Regions from separate parts of the Homo sapiens genome. Here region 2 is reported to be linked to region 1. Evidence: microRNA targets listed by miRTarBase, many of them from high-throughput screens and not tested one by one. Region 1 holds a microRNA gene; the other region holds the end of a gene's coding sequence.
What was found. Region 1 holds the annotated microRNA hsa-miR-133a-5p (AGCUGGUAAAAUGGAACCAAAU, at 1,054-1,075, opposite strand). A microRNA usually pairs through its seed, bases 2 to 8, with sites in the 3' UTR of a target mRNA and lowers its output. Matches are read on the target gene's strand: a 7mer-m8 pairs with bases 2 to 8, a 7mer-A1 pairs with bases 2 to 7 and ends in A, and an 8mer does both.

Region 2: the mRNA of SPRING1 is a reported target of hsa-miR-133a-5p. The part of its 3' UTR that is shown has no 7-base or 8-base seed match.

What each region holds. Positions count from the first base shown.
Region 1 is chr20:62,562,726-62,566,007 of GRCh38, reverse strand. It overlaps MIR133A2 (microRNA 133a-2), which reads right to left and starts at 1,096; the gene lies at 995-1,096. It overlaps MIR1-1HG (MIR1-1 host gene), which reads right to left. Exons shown (of 4, transcript NR_171007.1): 3 at 908-1,019.
Region 2 is chr12:116,715,094-116,718,375 of GRCh38, reverse strand. It overlaps SPRING1 (SREBF pathway regulator in golgi 1), which reads left to right. Exons shown (of 5, transcript NM_024738.4): 5 at 483-3,282. The coding sequence ends at 566. Among named protein-coding and RNA genes, the nearest start is that of SPRING1, 21 kb to the left of the region's middle. RefSeq lists enhancers at 125-654, 655-1,184.

The DNA of each region.
Region 1 (3,282 bases):
ATCCCTCCCAGGGTCCTGACCCTCGCCTCACCTGCCCTGGGGCCGGCAGCTGGTGGCCCCTGAGGGGAGGCCCCACGTCTGCAACTCTGGGCAGAAGTCAGGGGTCACTCCTGACAGGCCCTGGAACCCCAGGCCTAGAGATGCCCAGCAGGAGCCCCCGTGCCTGCCCAGGCCTCCAATCTGCTGGCGCCCAGCAGCCTGAGCCCCTTCATGCCAGCCCCTGCCAAGGGAAGGGCACATGGTCGGGGACCCCCACAATGGGTCCTGGGTGCCACCTGGCCTGCAGACCCCCTTGCAGATCTCTGCTCACTGCAGCTGTGCCCGTTGATGGCCCAGCTTCCCTGCACATGGGCGTCACTGCCTCCCGCAAGAGGGTGGGGAGATGGGGAGCCCCTGGGGGCCCCAGCAACCTTCACAGGCACCTCCCCAGCCACGGGCCATGCTGAGGGGCTCCTGTTTGGTAGTCTCCCTGCCAGGCCCAGCACCCCTCAGGCCATCTGGAGAGATGCCACCGGCCCAGGCCTCCCCACTGAGGACACAGACCCCCACAGGTCACCAGCGCAGCATCCGTGCTCACCCCTGTGGGTCCCTGGAGGTGCCTTAGAGTCCAGGCCATTTTAAAGGAGAAATCGAAGAAGGGTCCTTGGGAAGAGGACAGGGCGGGGCCAGCCCAGGCCCCCGGCAGGCCCAACCCACAGGGCCCAGCTCCTAAGCCCACATTTTCAAGCAAAGCTCTTGTGTGAGCAATGAACATTGGTTTCATGGTGCCCTGGCAAGGAGGAACAAGCAGGAGCACCCAGCTGTGGGGATGACCCCGTTCCTCAGCCACCCACTTTCAGGGGGAAGGGTCTCGGGCTCTGCACTGAAGTGTTCCGGGGGCGGGGGCGGCACTCAGGGCTTCACTTACTTGGAGCTGACCACGTGCCGAGCCGGGCTCTCCCCGCGCCACCTGCTGGGTCCTCTCCACGGCTGCGGGACCTGCGGCCGGGCCGCACGGCGCCATCAATGCACAGCTACAGCTGGTTGAAGGGGACCAAATCCATTGGACAGTCGATTTGGTTCCATTTTACCAGCTCTAGCAAAGCATTTGGCTCCCAGATCCGAGGAACAGCGACGTCGGTGAAGAAGGCGGCTCCACCAAGCAGTCCCGATGGAGATGGGGCTTCGCGGCCAGCATCAGGCCCTTACCCCAACTCCCGGAGGGCCCCCACCCCGTGGAGTTTCCCTCAAGCTCTGCAGGGACTGGTGTGAAGGGCCACACGCCCCAACACACACACACACTCAGACATACACAGACACACACACCCGCTCACACGCAACTCACCACCCTCTCGCTCTGCCCGGGCTCCCCCATCGGGGACCCGCAGGGGTCTGGGGAGGGTCGGGGGTGCCAGGCGGCCTCCATGCTCTGGAACTGACACTCACTGCTCTCTGCCTGTCACCGCCCGATTCCTCCACAGCCCTCGCTTCACCAAGTGCCCACTGCCCCCAGCACTAGCCTCAGCTGTGGGATACAGCTCAGACCATCGGGCCCCGCCCCAGGGGGCTCACATCTGTGGGCACAGTGATCTTGCAGGTTTGAGGCCCTTATTCCCCTGCAAACTCCTCCCAGACCATGCTCATAGCTGGAGCAGAGGCAGGACAGACCTCCCAGTGAGCCTTGGGCCCTGGCTAACCATGGGGCAGCCCACCCAGGACCCCGTCCTGCCTGGCTTGCCATGGCCTGGGTGGGACGGGATGGACTCTGACACCACATGGTATCTCTGGGTAGGCAGGACGGGAAGATTCCAGGGACGTCCACATTGCATGGTGGTGGGAGGACAGCCTGAGGGGGCCTTCGTGGCCTGACCCTGGGCCCCATGCCCCAGACCTGCAGCCCTGCCCGCATCTTGCTGAGGGGCATTTCCATGCCCAAGGGAACTGTGAGGATGGAGTGTCAGGACGGAGGTCCGAACGTGACATCACTCTTGCCTGGCTCCCGCGTCCCCCACACCAATGTCACCTTCAGTGCCTTGAGAGCAAGTTCCCTTTTATAAAATGAGTCTCCCTGCAGCCCCCGTTCATCAGGAGCCGTGACAGGTGAGGGAGAGTGTCTCCGGCAGTGCTGGGGATGTGGCACCCATGTGTGTGAGCTTCTATCCGGGAGCACAGGCCGTCCTGGGCAGCACAGGTGAACGCACCTGCTCCTCGCCCACCAGGTTGGCAGAGTGGGCGCTGCGCACTAGGGCCTGTGCCACCTGCCTGCCCGTTGCACACCTGGGGCTGCCCTGCCTGCCTGTCCTCTGGCCTTTCTGTCCCCCTCCTGACATTGCAGGGACAGAAGCTCAGGCCCCTCAGGCAAAAGGGACGGTCGCACAGCACCATGCCCACGCTCCAAGTCCCCTCTGGGAGTGACTGAGCTGGACGACCCCCCACCCCAGCCTCTGCCAGGCCTGCTCTGACCCGTCCGTAGCTGCCTTCCCTGACTGTCCCTGCCACGGTGCCCTCCAGAAAGATCTGTGCCGTGTAGGAGGACCACCTCCTCAAAGTCCCCTATAAGTCGGGGCTGGGCCCCAGCCTTCTCAGCCTCGCGCCCCAAAACAGAGAGGCTTCCGGGCCATCAGCCCACACTCTGCAAACCTCTCTCCTCCTTACTCCAGTAGCACAGAGGGTGCAGGGCAGACCTCAAGGCTCCCAGAGTCCACCCCTCCCTGGCCCTGGAGTGAGGACGGCTCAAAGACCTCGAAGCCGGCACACACTTGTCCATTTATCGCCTGTCAATATTCCTAATGGAGCAGAAGATTTGACAAGATCAAGCCGGGGATTCGAGTCCCAGCCGCGATTCTATCCCATCAGGAGCTGGGAGGTCTGGCATTTGCCAATCAACATAGCAAACAAACTGGTCATTTCACCCGAAAGGCAGCAGAGCACTGGGGCAGGCTGCAAAACCCCCACGGGGAGGCCACTGCGGCCTTGGATGAGGCATCAAGCTTGGCGTTGCAGCCGCCACGGTGGTGGGCGTGAGCTGTGAATAGACACCGAGCGGCCAAGTGCCAGGTGCGGCCCTGAGCACCGACAGCCACCGTCTTCTCCCATACACCCCACTGTACCTCAAGGCCAGTCCTGTGCTGCCCCTCAGGAGGACACTGGGGCTCACAGCAGCGTCCCCTGCCCCGGGGCCCAGGCCCTTCTCTCTTCATGCTGCCCCATGAGGTGGCAGCCAGCCTCCAGGTACCCTCACCCCAATGTGGCCTGGCTTAGGGAGGTTCCCAGTCATTCTTTGCCAAGGGTGTGATCAACACC
Region 2 (3,282 bases), not on the chromosome of region 1:
GCATGGTATTGTAGGATTTGGCTCATGCCCCAAATTTTTAGGTACATAAACTTTATGAAAGCAATTTAAAGTGCATCTCCTTAGTGTCTCTGCAGGGTTCCTTACGGGAACTGAGTGAAGCTCAGGATCAGGTGCAAAACACCCATTGGATCTTAGACTGTTTCAAGTAATTTGAGGAAAAGTAGTTGTCTTGAGTCACCAGGTCACAGCAAAGTTATTTAAAAACTCACTGGTGTACATAAAAAGAAACAGTCCCACAGCGATGTTATGTCTGTGTTCATGCTCTTCATTGGCATTCTGGGTTGAGCATTCTTCTTTGTTCCAGAAAGTGCCCTGGAGCCTTTAGTGACATTTGGAGATGGACTCGGCCAGCCCCCTGCAGGGAGAGTCTGACAGTCCCGATCCACTCTCACTCTTCCGAGAGGGAGGTGTGTGAAGCTGTGCTCGCTCTCACTGCGCTCTTATTTTCCTTTTGCCAACAGAGCGTGCAGCATGAGAACACCTACCGGGACCCCATAGCAAAGTATTGCTATGGAGAAAGCCCGCCCGAGCTCTTCCCCGCTTGACGGGTGCAGCGGACTTGCTCCAGCCTGGGTGAGGAGGCCCCGCTGAAGAACTCGCCTCCTGGGACCCAGCTTCAGCCATCGGGCCAGGCTGCAGGAAGAAGACAAAGGCAGCGTGAGGAAACCTTGGCTTTGACCCCTTCTCGTGTTGTCATCTTTGGCTTCGCTCACCACCCGGGCTTACCAGATGGAACTCTTCTGTAAAGCAGCTTGGCCCCTCCAGCCAGTCCCATTCGGGAAAGATGAAACCGGAGGCCGGGCTCACGGTGGTGGTGGAGTTCTTGGATGACTCAGCCCTGGGACCTGCACAGGGACCTGTGACTTGTGTTCATCGGGGGCCGGTGTCACTTCCAGTTTTGATCCAGGCTCTTTCACTGTAAAATTATTTATTGGATTCCTTTGGAGTAATGGGAACATTCTAATGTTTTATGTAGGAAAATGCCTTGCCATTCTAGTTGAATATGTTCAAGGAAATTATTTTTGTTGTTGTTCTGTGTTCTCGAGTTTCAGGAGTTAAATCATTCTTCCACCCAGATACAACATTTTCTCTTTTAGGACGTGAATATTCTCTCTAGGCAGTTATTTTTGTTTGTATTTCGACAGTATCAAGCATAGGCCCTGAACGTGACCTGTTAGCCATATCCTGACGTGTAAAATTATCTAAAAACTCAGACACTCTTCCATTCTAATCTAACTGCACGATTTCTAACAGTGGGCACCATGTGCCTGCCCTCAGGTTATTTTCCAGTGGTAGTCGAATGTGCTCATATACCCTATGGAGAGCACTGTTTTAGCAGAAATCTAATTTCTCTTCCTGGAGGAATTTGTTCTCATTTCTTTTGCCACTTAAAATTAACTGTGGGCTACTCAGCCAGGGTACAGTGGGAGCCTCAGGAAGGTCAGAGGCAACCTCCTCCCCTGTTCTATCAATAGAAACCCAACGTTGAGGCAATTCCTAAACAGACGCACCTCGTAGCTTGCTGTATGTGTTTATTCTTTATTGCTTTCAGCTTTGGGGCTGTAACAGGTACAAATATTTGGTTTCCCTATGATTTATAGAGAAGAAGAAGAAACCCAGCTTTCTATCAGAGCACTGCAAGAGAAGAGTCTTACACCTGCCCTCAGTGGGAGATGAGAATGGTCATTATGACTTAGAGAATGCTACACGTGTAGGTTGCTGGTGTGTCCTGAATCCACAGGCATAAAGCACTCCCCATTTTTCCTACTGTAATGCAGATTCTCCGGCTCAAGGTCTAGAATATTTGATCCTAAGATCAAGACATCATGCCCTTCGAATAGTACTGCTCTTTGTTTTCAGGAGTCACGTGAACACACAACTCTCCTATATTCCTCACGAACCTCAGGATTGAGCAAGGTCTTTGTAATTTTTTTGGTTCACTTTATTGACCTGGGAGCAAGGTGCTAATTCTGTGGTCAGTATTCAATGTTTTTTTCAGTGGAGCTTTTTCTTTGGGCCATATTTGCCTTCTAATACATTCCTGCAATATGTAGTGGTGATTTCCCTTAGCTTCCTCCTACTACCTCTTATACTCATCTCCCCAAATTATTTGCCTCCCTTAAATAAGTTTTCCTAGAAGGTAAGCTGGTCAGGCAATTTGAAAAATATTAGATCCCAAGAAATCTATTCCGTTTGCATTGGACTTCTCGGATTCCATGTGTTTGCAGCAGGACTACATCGAACTCTGATGTGCCGGATTGTGGCATGTCTGCATGTCTCATCCATCTATTGTTTTTGGTAACTCAGTTTGGAATTTCAGTGTCTGTCTTCCCTGGGTTGACATTGGAATCAGCCTCTCCTTTGAGCTTATTTTAACTCTTGAGCAACATAACATAGATTTAATGTGAACAGTTTATACCAAAGGGCAGCCTGTGCCTGTTTATGGATCCTCTCTGCCTTTGTACTTGAAGAGCGCATTTTACATTTCCAGTCCTTTCACAGACAGGAGCTCCAACCTTACGATGGAGAATTAAACTTGCTTGTATTTCCACTTTGTGGATGAGGAACTATGAGAGGTGGAGTGACTTCCTGGGTCCCCGCTGAGACTTAGTGACAGATCCCAGACAAGAACTTCATCTCTGACTCCAGGTCTAGTCCTCTTCCCCCTGTCTCTTGCCAACTCCAGCCCTGACACCGTGGGCGTCTCCCCTGAGAGCAGATATATTTCAATTGTCCAGGCCAAAAGAGGGGCGAGGCGGCATAAACACCCAAATTAGGTGGAGGATCCAAAAGTCATTTTCATTTGGCTGTGGAATATGTTTTTTGTATTTCAATCAGCTAGGGGTGTGTTCACTGTTTTTGGAAATTCACAGCGCTTGAGCCTCCATAATGAAGCTGGGCTGCAGAGCACCTGGCACGTGCTCCAGGCTCCCAGCTCCCAACCTAGGACCTCTCCCTGCCCTCCACTCTGGTTGGTTTGTGGTTCCCTCGACCGAGGGTTTCTAGAATCAGGGACCTTGTCTAAGTTTTGTTTGCCCAGAGCCCAGCGAAGTGTGTGATACACCTTGGGAGTTTAGGAGATCACAAAAGGGATGAAAACACCTTTAGAAAACATTTCATTGGTGGGGCGTGGTGGCTTATGCCTGTAATCCCAGCACTTTGGAAGGCTGAGGCAGGTGGATCACCTGAAGGCAGGAGTTCAGACCAGCCTGACCAATATGGTGAAACCCCATCTATACTAAAAATACAAAAATTAGCCGG